Regions from separate parts of the Homo sapiens genome. Here regions 2, 3 and 4 are each reported to be linked to region 1. The links are microRNA targets in miRTarBase. Many come from high-throughput screens and were not tested one by one. Region 1 holds a microRNA gene; each other region holds the end of a gene's coding sequence.
What was found. Region 1 holds the annotated microRNA hsa-miR-29a-3p (UAGCACCAUCUGAAAUCGGUUA, at 1,749-1,770, opposite strand). A microRNA usually pairs through its seed, bases 2 to 8, with sites in the 3' UTR of a target mRNA and lowers its output. Matches are read on the target gene's strand: a 7mer-m8 pairs with bases 2 to 8, a 7mer-A1 pairs with bases 2 to 7 and ends in A, and an 8mer does both.

Region 2: miRTarBase lists CSRNP2 as a target of hsa-miR-29a-3p. Seed matches in the 3' UTR shown: 8mer at 314-321.
Region 3: miRTarBase lists COL5A2 as a target of hsa-miR-29a-3p. Seed matches in the 3' UTR shown: 7mer-A1 at 1,619-1,625 and 8mer at 1,541-1,548.
Region 4: miRTarBase lists FGB as a target of hsa-miR-29a-3p. The part of its 3' UTR that is shown has no 7-base or 8-base seed match.

The regions. Positions count from the first base shown.
Region 1 is chr7:130,875,000-130,879,645 of GRCh38, forward strand. MIR29A (microRNA 29a) reads right to left here and starts at 1,811; the gene lies at 1,748-1,811. MIR29B1 (microRNA 29b-1) reads right to left here and starts at 2,540; the gene lies at 2,460-2,540. It also overlaps a transcript of LINC-PINT not described here. RefSeq lists an enhancer at 271-565 and a silencer at 361-560.
Region 2 is chr12:51,061,187-51,064,618 of GRCh38, forward strand. It overlaps CSRNP2 (cysteine and serine rich nuclear protein 2), which reads right to left. Exons shown (of 5, transcript NM_030809.3): 5 at 19-3,432. The coding sequence ends at 2,560. It also overlaps a transcript of LETMD1 not described here. Among named protein-coding and RNA genes, the nearest start is that of LETMD1, 15 kb to the left of the region's middle.
Region 3 is chr2:189,031,333-189,034,764 of GRCh38, forward strand. It overlaps COL5A2 (collagen type V alpha 2 chain), which reads right to left. Exons shown (of 54, transcript NM_000393.5): 54 at 566-2,884. The coding sequence ends at 2,738. Among named protein-coding and RNA genes, the nearest start is that of MIR3606, 37 kb to the left of the region's middle.
Region 4 is chr4:154,569,680-154,573,111 of GRCh38, reverse strand. FGB (fibrinogen beta chain) reads right to left here. Exons shown (of 8, transcript NM_005141.5): 7 at 3,313-3,432; 8 at 305-2,693. The coding sequence ends at 2,462. Among named protein-coding and RNA genes, the nearest start is that of FGB, 8.4 kb to the right of the region's middle.

The DNA of each region.
Region 1 (4,646 bases):
TTATACTTAGGAGCTACTAAAAATATAAAAAGCAAGATGTCTCAAAAAATATCCCAGGCCAGACCTCTGGTTTGAGGGAAATCAACACATAGGGATGTATTTGGAACCAGGGGAGTAAATAAGATTACTTAGGGAAAACAGCGAATAGGTAAGAAAGCAAAAGACAAGAGTTTTGGGAAAATAATAACCATGGGATAGAAAAAGATGTGGTGGAATGATCCTGATTCTCGTTGGATTTGTGTGGTAGACAGAATGTTTTGGCTACAAATTGCATGTGTTAGCCCCGAGGAGAAAAGGCCTTTTCCAGACAAGTGACAGGCAGGAGGGAAAAGGAGGGAGGCAGTGTGAGAGGGCGGGAAAGCTTAAGCAGGGTAGATAGAATATTAACTCTTGATTGTGAGGCCAGTGGCTTTTCCAGGCCAGAAAGAAAACAGAAGGACAAGGCCCAAATTCCACCAGGTGCCCCTGCAGTTCTCCAGGACGCCACATGGGGACAGCAGGTGGCCGGTCTGTGCAGTACCTGTGTTGGGAGCTGCACACAGGGGCCCCTGGAGGAGGAGCGGCCGAGATGGCTCATTCTTGAGCCTTTTATTTTATTTTATTATTTTTATATTTTATTATTATACTTTAAGTTCTAGCATACATGTGCTTATACCCAAAGGATTATAAATCATGCTGCTATAAAGAGCCTTTTATTTTTGCCTCTTAGTGGACCTAAAAACTCAGTATTGTTTTTGGTCTAATGACTTCACTTCTAGTGAGGTTGTGTTAGTCCGTTTTGCGCTGCTATAAAGACATACCCGAGACTGGGTAATTTATATAGTAAAGAGGTTTATTTGGCTTACAGTTTTGCAGCCGTACAAGCATGGCACTGGTACCTGCTCGGCTCCTGATGAGGCCTCAGGATGTTTTATACATGGTGGAAGGCGGAGAGGGAGCAGACATGTCACATGGCGAGAGAGGGAGCAAGAAAGAAAGAGCAAGAGAGAGGAAGGAGGTGCCAGCTTTTTTAAACAACCGGCTCCCTCTAACTGAGCAGGAACTCGTTAAGTGAGGACATCACCAAGCCATTCACAAGGGATCCGCCCCATCACTCAACCACCCCCACCAGGCCCCACCCCCAATACTGGGGATCACACTTCAACATGAGATTGGAGGGGACAAACATCCAAACCATATCAAAGGTATACTCTAGGATCCTAGTTCAAGTAGCACCTGCTTTTGTTGCTTTGCCTTCTAAACTGAACTGACACATATTAGCACAGTTCTGTCTCAGCCATAGAAACCCAGTTTCTCTGGACCATTTTTCCTTATGTAAGAAAATGACCTGTTTAACCATGGAGGGAACTCCTCAGCCAGCTAAGAGAGGAGAGTTCAGAGATAGCTGGTGCAGCTTCTCATCAACAACAGAATTGACTCCCTCGCTGCTCCTTTCCCATCATCTAAGCCAGTCATCGATTTTCCCCAGGAGTGTTTCTAGGTATCCGTCACCAAAACAAAACCCCCACCAAGTCTATGGAATTTCTATAAAGTATAACCATTCATGATATGCTAATAGTGAACCATTTGTTAGTATTATACCACATGCAATTCAGGTCAGTGAAATTCAACTTAGAAACTGGAAGAAGAAAAATCACCTTTGCATTATTGCTTTGCATTTGTTTTCTTAGTTCTTGTCCATGGCCCCAACGGTCACCAATACATTTCCTCTCAGCAGTCAGCATCATGGTGCTCTTCCCCAATCATTATAACCGATTTCAGATGGTGCTAGAAAATTATATTGACTCTGAACACCAAAAGAAATCAGTCATCCTCTAAGGGGTCACAGAAGGTCGTGAGGGTTGGGAGGGCCCAAATCTTACTAAATCCAGCATACATTGGGCTCTTTAACCCAGGCACAATGGAATGAGTCTGTACTATCTATTAAGTGCTATAGGTTTATTCCACAAAGAAGTATAAAATTCCAACAATGCGATATCCTGTACAATTACATTCATCCCTTGGTATCCTTGAGGGATTGGTTCCAGAAAGCCCCTTGGATACCAAAATCCACAGATGCTCAAGTCTCTGATAGAAAATGGTGTAGTATTTGCATACAACCTACACACATCCTCCCGTATACTTTAAATCGTCTCTAGATTACTTAGAATACTTAATGCAATGCAAATGTATGCAAATAATTGTTATGCAGTATTGTTAGAGAATAATGACAAGAAGAAAGTCTGTTCATGTTCAATACAGACACAACTTATTTTTGGAAAACTTTCGATCACAGTTGGATCCGCCAGTGCAGAGACCTGACTGCCATTTGTGATATATGCCACCACTGTTGGCAGGGGTGAGGAAGGGGTCAGCTACATGTGAGGCAGGTTCTCACAGCCATCCTGCTGTTGCTTTCAAATACTTCAGAGCTGTCCCATTCACTTCTTTTGCTGTTGGTAGTGCAGCGCAGCTGGTCTCCCCCAAGAACACTGATTTCAAATGGTGCTAGACAATCACTATTTAAATCTAAACCACCATATGAAACCAGCTTCCTGAAGAAGCTTTATGATCTATTTTTTTCTTCATAATGCTCTCTTACAATAAACCCAAGACAACCTAGAAAGGAAAAGTTGAAACCTAGCTGTGAGTTACTCAGTGGTCTAAACAGAGCTTTGGCAAATTTCATATATTCATAAACTGATGTCACTGAATTTGTTATTGATGGGAGAGCATGCCTGGGACTCCCTTATTCTTAAGTTAAGTTGCCCAGACAAAGGTTCAGCTTCATCATTTAGAGGCAAGGGCACATGTCAGCCCCGTCACTCTTGGGTGGGAAGACAAGGAAAATCCTTTGCTTGGGTAAAGGCAGGAGAAGTCAGAGGCATCCTGTGATCAAGTACCCAGGCAGGCGGAGGACGACTAGCAGTGGTGCTGGAGAACCGTCCGTCGGACATGCAAATAGGACAAAGCAAGCAAGTGCTCCATAGAAGTTGAAGAAAAACGCTTTCCTAAACCTATTATTTTCACTTGGAGATAACTTGGATCCAAAGGATTACTGAGATTTTGGGGTCTAGGGAAGAAAATAGACTAGCTCAGAGGCCAAGTAAGTCACATAATGGCACTAATGAGATGCTAATGTCGCTTCCGGAATGAATTCCTTAGACTGCATCTATGAGTTAGGGGTTTTTGTGAGCTTTACTTAAGACTCTCCTTCCCTCTACTCCAAAGGTAAGGCTTTGTACTCTGAGTTCTCCTTGGCAAATTATTTTTTGCAGCAGTTCTTTTTCGCCGTCATGGTATAGTTCTTGGTATCATCTTATTAGGTGGCCTGTTGTCGTCCCTTTTTGTGTTCTAGGCATCCAAAAAGATACTTCATGTACCCAGGCCACCTAATTAAAGGGGTGTGCACTGTTTTTATAAACTGTTATAAAAAATTTTATACATTAAATTGGAATGACAATACAATGAATTCCTAAATCCATACTATCTAAATTCAATAACTATTCCTTTTTATCATGTTTTGCTTTAATTATATGTAATATAGATACATATTTTTTGCTGCATTGTTTGAAAGTAAATTGATAACCACCCATACATACACTGCTCCTAACTACTTTGAGGTCGTTCTATAAAATGAAGACACTCTTCTACATAACCACAAAATCTTACCATACCTAAGAAAACAAACAATTCCTTGGTACCCACAAATATCCAGCCTACATCCAACTTCTCCCACTTTCTCCAAACAAAAGGTTTTTTATAGGTTTTTCAAACCCAGATCGCATCAAGGTTGATTCACTAAGACTCTTTGGTCTCTTTTAGCCTCAAAACACTACCCAACCTTTTCTTTGGCTTGTTTTATCATGACATACCACCTTGTGAAAACCAGGCTCCAATCCTGGCTGTACCATTCACTTAGTCTGTTCCCTTGGCTTGTATTTAAGAACTGAACTTTAGTTTCTCCGTCTGACTTTCCTCATATATCATCCTCATTTTACAATCTCACTATGTGTATTAGAAGAACATCCAATTACCACGTGCCTGTGGTTGATGATTCCAAGTGGGTTCAGTGCTAATCAGTCAGGAGGTGCACTGCAGGCTGTTTACCTTGGGTCTGATTAGCATAACATTCTTGTTCCTCATGGGCTTGGCCAGTTATCTTTTCATAAGGAGATCCCAGCACAAACTCATCCTTTATCATCATGGAGAAGCATCCACAGCACATACCTATTGCTGCTAGGCTGGTTTTTAAAAAAAATCTCTGTGAATAAGGGAATAGAACACCAGGGCTATGGAGATGCGTGGCAATCATTTCATCAAAGATGTAAACAGCTTGTTGACTGCAGTGAAAGGCACATACTTTGTGAAGTGACAGGCAGTGACACATTTCAAGTGGATAGTAAATTTAAGCACCAAAACTGGGAAAAGTGCCAGGACAGAAGAATCACTGCAACTCTCAAATAATGGTTTCACTAATTCTGTGATTCCTTTAGGGACCCCCTGCATCCTTCTGTATATGCTACTCTAATTCGCAGTATCAGTGACTGAAGTACAAAAGAAGCAGCCAGATTATTCTCATCAGTTACAAAACTCTAAAGTCTGCTTATTTTTGATAAATAACTAGTCACAGTGTTTGCCTACTGCCTAGAAGTTTTTTCAAATGA
Region 2 (3,432 bases), not on the chromosome of region 1:
ACAAAGAGTAACACATCATTCTTTTGAATATTTCTTTAATATTACATTTAAATATTCTCTTTAAATACAGCATTATCACAATGTAAAGAACCTAAAGGGGAAAAAATTATTTTCAGAGAACCAGACAAGCTTTGGATTCACATTGAAAATACTACCTGTGTACAGTATGTGAGAAAGGAAATTGGAAAATAATAAGGGTTGTGGTAATAAGAGTCATTTATCTAGGCCTAGACTGGGACTGAAGCTATCTGCTTCTATGATCAGAGGCCTAGCTTTCCTAGCAACCATGAGCTAGAATTCTGTCCAACTCAGGTAGCACCAGAAGTGAGATGGACTAGGTTGTAGAGAAGGCCTTTCGCTTGACAAGACAGTTAATGCTAAATGTTAATATTTAGCACTTAAAAGTTTGGGATCAGTGTGAGTCACAACTGTAGCGTTAATGAAGGGGATGGACTTAAATTAAGAAACTACAGGTTTTCAGAAACATATCTTGTGGGTTGGCAATGAGCTTAATAATTACAGATTCATATTCCTGGTTTGATCCCAAAAGCTAATGTGTTCCTCATCGTGCAGCTGGAATCTACTTCCTAGATTAAGCCGGAGCCTTCCTGCAGAGACAGTGGGCAAACCTCACCCTCCCCTTCCGACACAAACTTTGAAAAAGATTCTTTTCTCCATAAAGCCAAATTCCCAATTAAGCTTCAGTCCTGTGTTTGAGGGTACCAGTCTAAGGTAGGGGAGTCTAGTTCAGTTCTGGGTAGCTTCGAGAGCTCAGGTACTTAAAAGACTCTCAACTGTGTTTTGTGAGGCTAGGGGATGGGGAGAGATAAGGATCTGTGTACTTAAGTTCCCCTCCAAACTAAAACCAAGCAAAAACTGGAACAAATAGGAAAGGCAGAATGAACTAAAAAATGTTATGTGTATTAAATACAAATCTTTTCAGGCTCAGAGTTTAGAGACTTCAGGGGTGAAATGCTGCTGCGACATACGTGATGGTTTCTGTAAGACACCAGGGCCTTAATATCCCACCAGAAAAGGCTTTATGAGCAAGATAAGTAGGAGTAGTGTCTCCCCCCCAACACAGTTTTTCACTTTTGTGTGTGTGTGTGGTTAATAAACCATACCAGAAGTAAAGTATGGTGTAAAGGATGCTTGAGAAGAATAGTTTTGCTCCCTACTGCCTCCATTTTAGAACAGAGACAAAGATCACTTTGCTAATGAAAGGAAATCAGTGCTGTTCAATGGAGATCTTAGAACACAGGATGAACAGGAACTGTATTCCTCCTGACAGAGGTAAGAACTGAATCAAACTGAATGAGTTCCATTCTATACGCTTCAAAGGTTATAATTAGAACTTGAATCCTTTGGAATCTGGGAGTTGCATGTAGCATTTAAGAACTGGTTTGGCTTCCAATTTTTATATATCATCAAGATGGAGGGGTCCAATAAACATTTGCAATTCTTGGAATTGAACTGGAACAGTATAAGAACTCTAACCCGCTATGTTGAAAACGACCATGAGGGTAGATCCAGGAAAAAAGAACAAAAACTGATTGGTGACCTTAAGATTGCCACATTCTACATTCCACTAAAGCTCAGATCTCACAAAGAGGGAAAAACCTGGGTGAAAAAACAAGCATGGCACAAATATGTCATCTTTCCAGATAGCAAGCAGCCTGTTCCCGCTGCCTCCTTTGGCCACAGTTAATGCTCCACATAGGCCTCCTATGGGATGGGTGAGCCCCAGCCGAAAGCTGCCTGACAGTGCTAGTGTCAGACACGTACAGAAGGCTCAGGCTCGTTATACCATATCCCCAGCCAATCCAGCTCTTTCTCCGAAGGAAAAAGGATGGAGAGAAAAAAGACACATAGACAAGTTTAACTCTAGTACTTAAGAACATGTGGAAGAAACAATTCAAGTTACAGACCAGGAATCCCCAGTGTGGGGAACAGGTCAGAGAACACCAAACATGTCAAATATTAACTTATTTACCAAATATGGGATTGAAGGAAGGCAGGTTACATTTTTGTAAATCCTGGAGATTTTGTACAGAAGCAGAGACCCTTCCACTCCCTCCTCCCTAGACTCGACCAGGTGACTTTCCAGTTTGAAGTATTATGACACACCAAAATGGGATATCAGAATAACCACCGAGAAAAATGAGCTTGTACTCTGCCTGGGGCTTGGGAGAGAAAGGGCTTTGCCATGCTCTTCAAATTCTCGTGTTCTGGTCCCTACAGAAAGAATAGCTGCTTGAGTTACCCAGCTTTTCCTGTGAGATCCTAGTTCTTTGTTCCAGTGGCCCAGAAAGCTTAATGTTCAGCACTACGCAGCTTTCTTTGCCCCAAGACTATCCCCAGATCAAGGTAGGGCTGGTCTCCTTGGTACTGTTTCCCTTTTAAAAAATACTCAAACAATCCTTTCCCACCCATTCCCCAAAGACCCCAATAAAATAACATGGGAGCAGCAGCTGCTTCTACAGTTTTGTTTTGAAATGGTGTTAGATAAAATAAGGGAATAAATAGAGAATGGGTAAGAGGCAGGACCTCTAGCGCCTGTCACACTGCCAGAGGGAGTTCTAAGGAAGAATCTTCAGGGGGCCGATCCTCATTCTGCTGGGAGGTCTTCACCATCCCACAGCCCTCTTCATTGTCCGTGCGGAAGGGGAGGCTTGAGGGGGACCAGGAAGGGTGGAAGTCTTCATTTTCAGGCTCCTCAGGGTTACAATCTTCGGGCAATAGAGCTTCTAGGGTGGGTGTTTTCCCCACCTCTGATTTACAGAGGGCAGCTGGGTCTGTGGAGCTACAAGCCACGAGTGAGGTAACAGGGAGAGAGAAGACATTCAGATCCTTCTCCTTTGGGAAAGAGGCTGAGCCTTCTTCCGTACCAGGCTCTCCTTTCACTCCCAAGACTGGCCTCTGCTCCACTTGATAATAGACCAGGGGCCCACTGTTCAAGTAGGATGGGCTGTTCACCGTTGAGGCAGTTGGGTGGTCTGAGTTCTCGGTAAAACACAGGACAGAGGAGCCTGGGGGCAGCTGAGCCTGGATGAGAATGGGGGCTGTAAGGCCTGGGCACAGCTCTTCGGGGACAGCCAGAGGCTCCTCTAGGATGCACACACCCAGGCTCTCGATGCTCGAGTCCAGGCTGGCACTAGAGCCGCTGGAATCTTCTTCTGCCTTGAGCCGCTCCAGTTCCTCTGCACTCTGCAGGTGCATCACTGCTGTCTCATTCTCAGCAATGAACTCCTGGAAGTCCTGGGTCTCAGAGCCCTGTGCTCCTGTCAGGCTGCAACTGGCAGTCGGGGAGGGCTCCTCATCTGGGGCTGCTGGGCGGCTCACCTGCCGCTTGCTCTCCAGCTCCAGCTTCATAATGGTGTGGAGGTAATGAGTCCGGACCCGGATTGGATTAAATTCAATGCGTCCTGCCAT
Region 3 (3,432 bases), not on the chromosome of region 1:
GTGTGTGTTGTGTTAGCTAGGGTGGCGGGGGGGAGTGGGAGGTGACATATTCAGATTTTTATTTCAAATTGATTTCTCTGGCTGTAGTGAGAAGAATGGATCAGAAGAGGGAAAGAGTGCATGCCTGAAAACCTGTCAGAGGCTATTGAAAAAGCTCAGGCGAGACATAATATTCATGTGGACAAGGATAACGGCAGTGGAGATCAAGAGAAGGATATGACCTTAGGGAATATTTAGGGGGCAGAATTAGAAATATTTAAGAAGGACAGTACTCTGGCATGGTCTGAGAGAGAGAGAGAGAGGTGACAAAAATGACTCTCGGGTTTCTGGCCTGCCTAAATGGATGGATAATGACGCTGCTGTCTTTTTTTAAATTTCTGTTAATTTTGAGAATTTTCATTTGTATTTTTTAAATAAATCAACAATAAATGTATGCCACCATCCTCCCCAAATGTAGATTATTTCACTTTTTATAGTGTAGAATTTGAGGTGTCTATGGGACATGAAAGTAAAGAAATCCACTGACAGGTCTAATATATAGGCAAGAAATTTGAGAGCTTTGGAATGGTCTGGGCAGGCTTTTATTGGTAGCATTCCCAAAATCCAAATAAGAACTGTTATTTCTATAGTTGGAAATTGTTAGTGTTTGTGACTTAATAGTATTACCACATATTTCTGATTCATCTATATGAACTTATATAATCTTATAGTTTGGACTTGGAAGTCAAACAAAACTCACACATGTATTTAGGCATATAAATACTCAAATTTAAGATATACAGGTCAAAATATAACCAGTTTAGGGGAAAATGATGTTGTAAACTAAATATTGAGAATGAAACTGAAAACAATTAGGCTAAATTCATATGTGATACACTTTGAGACATATGTTTTATTATTACAGTTTATTCAGTCATGAAAAATCTATTGCTTGCCCTTTTTATCAATAATACTACTCTGACATTTTTAAGGGCAGAGGCAGTGATAATTGGTGTCATGTTGCCTTTGTGGGTAATGTTGTAGATAGATTTTCATTTATAAGCCAGTACATACATGATAGAAGGTATCCGTTGTATCTTTTAAACAAATGGCAAACAAAGTATACCACCACATCTCCTTTTCACTATTGGAAATGAAATAGATCTAATATGGTCAAAGGAATTTCACAAAACAAAAACCACTGACATGACAAAAGCGTGCATTTAATTTGATGCTTTGCAGAGATACATGACCAAAGTTGTATGCATGGCTTGTCTTTTGGGATGGTCCCAGCTGTTTATTTTAAAAGAAAAAAATTAAAATAGAGCCAACAAATGCAATTAAGAAAAAAAAAGTATTGAGACACAAGGGGACCTACATGTTCTGGTCTAAGAAGCATGCAAGTATTACAAAGCATTCCAGATACAGTATGACAGAGGAACAGTGAACAAGCATTGGAACGATGCTCTTTCTTTCAGAAACGGGAAGTCTAACAGTTATGTTTTCACAATGGTAGTGATTAAACCATCTTTATTTTTAAGGAATTTTATAGGAAGAATTTTAGCACCATCATTAAAGGAAAAATAATAATACCTTTTTAGCCCTGCCTATCTCCAGTCTTGGAATAATAACAGAAGCATAGCACCTTTCAGTATCTAAAATATAAACAAGAATAGTAAGTCCATCCCAGCTTCTAGAGATGAGGTAGCTCATGCTAAGAAATGTTGGGTCATTTTTCCTATGAAAGTTCAAAGGCCAAATGGTCTAATTCCAATCATCACATTTGATTAGAGTCAGCTCCACAACTCAGTTTCTAGATCTTTTTCTTCATTATAGGCTTCAGGATGATGAGATTGTACATGTGGAAGAGTCTCAATTTAGAGTCCTTGGACATATGTTTGTAAAGTTCTATATGTCAATTATTTTGCATTCAATATCTTCTTAAATAAGAAAGTGTAAATGTATTAAATGGTATATACTAGTGTGACTTCTATCAATATTGATAGATTGATCAAGAGGAGAAAGATATCTTTAAATTTGAATGAGAAAGATGTCTAAACTTATAGTCTTTTACAAAAATTTAAGAAGTCGAAGTAAATTCACTTTGTTCTCCAAAATGCCACTGAATATATACTATTTAAAAATTCTATTTAAGACAGTGAGAAACGTTTTTTTTTTTTTAAGATTCTCCTTAAAGAGTCTCTATTATAGTTACACAATATCAAGACATGCATGTAGGTCTCGATCACAAGTTAAACATTTTAAACTCATTTTTAATTGACAATCTTGGAATGAGAGGTCACAAAAGGGCACTAATTTCTATTTTTCAACTGCAGCCAAGCAAAATAAACATGTGTTGTGGCTCTATATACCCCACTCTTTAAGCTACCTGCCAGGAAGAAGAATTTCCTCATAAATACTAAGCAACTTTTTCATTACACTGAAATAAATTGAAGAAAACGGAGATTTATTTATTCAATCAGTTTACTTTCTGCAAAGGTGGTCATTGTCATTGGTCATCTTAAACCTAAACTGTTGTATTGAAAAATATTTAAAATCAATTAAAACTTGAGGATTGTAAGTAAAATAAATATTCTGAAGGATAAGGAGGCCAGGCACTTAAGACCATATATACAATGCTGATGCAGGATCAGCCATTACTTCAAGAGTCTCAGGATCAACTTCAAACAGTCAAAGTTCTTGTGAATGGCGGTGGTCATTGATGGTGGTGCTCATTGTCGATGTGTCTTGGCTTACTTTACACAAAACAAACTGGCCCAATTTCAACGCCGAATTCCTGGTCTGTGCCGCCAACATCCACAGGAGCAAGATCTATGATGGGCAAGCGTGCCACATTCTGTGTTCTATATTCAAAGACAGTCTTGCCCACATTTCCATTCCGCTTCTGAAATTAAATGATGCAATGGGTTAAATGTACATACAATTTTTTCCAAGTATGTTAGACAGCAACCTTCCCAGACACTTTTATAATGTAAAGGCAATGATTTTTAGAGTACTACTTAAAAAAAAGGAATGAAAACATAAAGTGAAATATTAGTGTACTTATGTAACAGAATTTCTTTCATGCTTTAAGTAAATTTCCTTTGTTCTTCTGCAGCTTCCCAAATGGTCACTAGCAACATAAATTATGAAAGCTTTTTTGTTTTTCACAAATGAAACTATAATTCACCATTTAGTATTATTTTCGTTTTATATCTCAATATGCAAGCGGGGAGACTTACTTACAAATTGGTGGAAAAAATAAAGTATCTTGGATTAATTACGCATTTTAGAAATAAGGAATTTTAAGCATGGGACTGAGATTCAGTAAGTTAAATAACTTGGAAAAGAACCAAAGAAAGTCTGCAGAAGAACTGGATCAGATCTTAGGGATCCAGTTCTTTCTTTACTATATGGATTCAAACCTCTATCATGCTTCATGTGCTAACACAC
Region 4 (3,432 bases), not on the chromosome of region 1:
CCCATGGTAGCTGCACCGTTTTACATCCCCACAACAGTGCGAAAGGATACTGTGTGATTTCACTTATATGAGGTATCTGAAACAGTCAAAGTGGAAAATAGAATGGTAGTTGCCAGGGGATGGGAGGTAGGGGGAAATGGAGATAAAATTTCATTTTTAGTAGATGAATATGTTCTAGAGATCTACTGTACAACATAATGCCTAAAATTAATAATACAGTATTGTGCACTTAAAAATTTGTTGATAATATTTCATATTAAATGTTCTTACCATGAAAAACTAAAATAAATGAACACAAGGAAACTTTTGGAGGTGATGGATATATTTAATATCTTGACTGTGCCAGTGATATCATGGGTGTATGCATATTTCCAAAATCATGAAATCGTATATGTTAAACACTTTGTATGACAGATGCATCCGACAGCATTAACTCAAGCATACCCTGAGAATGACTGTATGGTCTAAGAAGAATATGTGTTCAGAGTCTAAGCTAAGGAATCCGGGAATGGCCAACCCAGAGAGATTCACTTCTTATCTGTGAAGGACACTTGAACTCCCTGCCTGTCCGTTGGAACTCAGGATGTGCAAGGAACCAAGGCCTTTTATTTTGGGTTAAATGGAGGTTGCTAAGTGGAGAGTGCTAAGTAGAAATGTTATATAAACTACATACTCTTTACAAATAGTAGCGGTCCTGTCCAGCCCACTGCCACTGGACCACATCTGTATTTAAGTCCTAAATAAACCCTATGTCCCATTCACTGGCTCTGGGTCTCTTCTTGGACAAGGCGCCATCCCTGTTGGAATCAATAGGGCTCCAGCATGACACATGTGCAGGATTTTTTAAATTATATCAATTATATCTCAATAAAGCTGTTGAAATTTTTAAAGGGCCTGACCTGTCCTGGAATGGGGAAAAACTTAATGTGACAAAAATGTAGGTTATAGTGAAGGGAACAGGAAATGGTACTGGGACCATTTTTACTCCAGCTAAAAAATTTGAATTTAAGAAATTTGGATATAGATAGGAAGGAGCTAATGTTAAGCAGGAAGTAAGTTGATAAGAGTTTTCTGTTAAATGTGATGGCAAAGCGGTAGGTGAGTATGGGCTCCAGTGGGACAGAACTTGTGGCAGAGAAACCAGGTCAAAAGTTAAAGTTGGATTTGGTGAGTAATTAAAGAGAGTAGTAGCATTTCCAAGACAGAAATTAATGAGCTTTGCTTACATGAAAAGATTAAGAGGATAAGCTTAAGAACAATAAGTACCATAAAAATGGGTGGCAATGATGATACATTAGGGGTGGAGGACCTAGGGTCATAAGGTTGCCCGTGGCGACTTGGAGTGAAGTGTTGAGATGATATGCCCATTTCATGGGGAGAAGTAGAAAGAACAGAAAAACCACTTTTACTTTAGTTCTGGTGTAACTATGAAGAAAAAAAAGCCTAATTGAGGACAAGAATAGACCTCGTTTCTATGGGCAACAGGCATATTCTGCTCCCTATTTCATTATTTCGCTTAAAAAACACTTGGTGAAGACTTGATGCAGATTGTCCTCTTGGAATCTCTGATCCTGATGTTTATTTAAGTGGCAGAGTGGTGGCTTTTCCATGGTATATAGTCAGATTCTTTTTTTTTTTTTTTTGAGGTGGAGTCTCACGCTGTTGCCCAGGCTGGAGTGCAGTGTTGAGATCTTGGCTCAATGCAATCTCCACCTCACAGGTAGCTGGGACTACAGGCACCTGCCACCACGCCTGGCTAATTTTTGTATTTTTAGTAGAGATGGGGTTTCACCATATTGGTCAGGCTGGTCTTGAACTCCTGACCTTGTGACCGCCCGCCTCAGCCTCCCAAAGTGTTGGGATTATAGTCGTGAGCCACCGTGCCCGTCCTAGAGTCAGATTTTAAATCTTCAAATATTCAAGACCGGTTTATTAGCTATTTGAGGTTGTGAACGCTTCTCCTTCCTTACAAGTGCAAAGCCTAACTCATTGAATGTGTGGATTACAAAACAAGAAAACATTAACTTATTGCAACAGAGTCTGGTTTAATTAATAAATCTTTTTGGAAGTTTTCTTTGACAGATCCTACATAAATAAATATAGTTTTAAAAGTGGACTTTTAAACATCAGTTTTTCCTTTCCGTCATGGTTTTCCTACGACAAGGATAAAAGACCCCTCTTCCTTATTTGAAAATTCTCGCAATCAACTAGAACTGAAATTATGAACACCAACTCTGTCAAAACTATACTTTTGTTACTTCTTGGTGAGCAAGAGAAATGAAGAAAACAAAAGAAAATCATGTGCTATTTTAATGTAATTTATCCTATACTTTTTTCAAAAAGTCACACTCACGTCTGCTTGAGAGTTTTAGAGGAATATAATGTATGAAAGAAAATTCCAATAACATAATGTACAAAAATGTTGTCACATACAGAAGAGCAAAAATCTACGTATTGGGGACTATTGCTGTGGGAAGAAGGGCCTGATCTTCATACTCATCTTCCTCATTGAGTACCATGACCCCTTCCAATTCATCCATACTACACCATCATCTGTGCCATGCTTTGCCATGTCCCAGGTGTACTGTCCACCCCAGTAGTATCTGCCGTTTGGATTGGCTGCATGACATCTATTATACCACCATCCACCACCGTCTTCTTTAGAACACTGTTTTCTGGGATCTGATGTTAACCTGAAAGAAAATGTGTTTGGCGTTATTAGAAACAGAACTACGGTGGTCAAGTTACGTTTTGCAGATTACCCATAAAAGACTGCTACACTCGTGTGCACAGTAGTCTTTCCTTTGGGTGCTATACATAGAGTCACACTAATACACCAAAGACCTCCTGTGCCCTATAGCAAGAAAGAGAGATAACTGGGCCTTTGTGGCCAATCCATCTAGGGACTGTGTTTGTTACTTTATACTGGAATAATAGCTTTTACAACCCTTAGTATCAGAGAACCCTGGAAATGAAAATGAAAGTTTTCACACACACTTTAGAATATAGAGATATAGGTATTTATCTAAATGCTCATTATTCAGAAAGTAACTGTGCTCAAATTCTAGTTTTATCTCTGGGTAGTTGTGTGACATTGGACAAATCACGTAATCTCTCTAAATCTCATCTGTAAAATGAGAATAAGAATGTCTACCTTATAGTTGAAATGCTTTCGAGTGATGCATAAAGAGCTTAGGACAGTGGCTGACAGTAAGTGCCCAGGAAGTGGTAGCTATTAAAAATATTGTTAATGATTCTGAGTAATGATATTAGTGTGATTTTTAAAGCAGGAGCAAAGAGTGCCACACATACCAGCCGTCATTGTCTCTGTCATACGTGCTGAAGAACATGCCGTTGTGAATGGTCATGGTCCTGTTTTCTCCCATCAGCTGAGATGCTCCATCCATGAGGGCATTACCGGCTGTTCCTCTG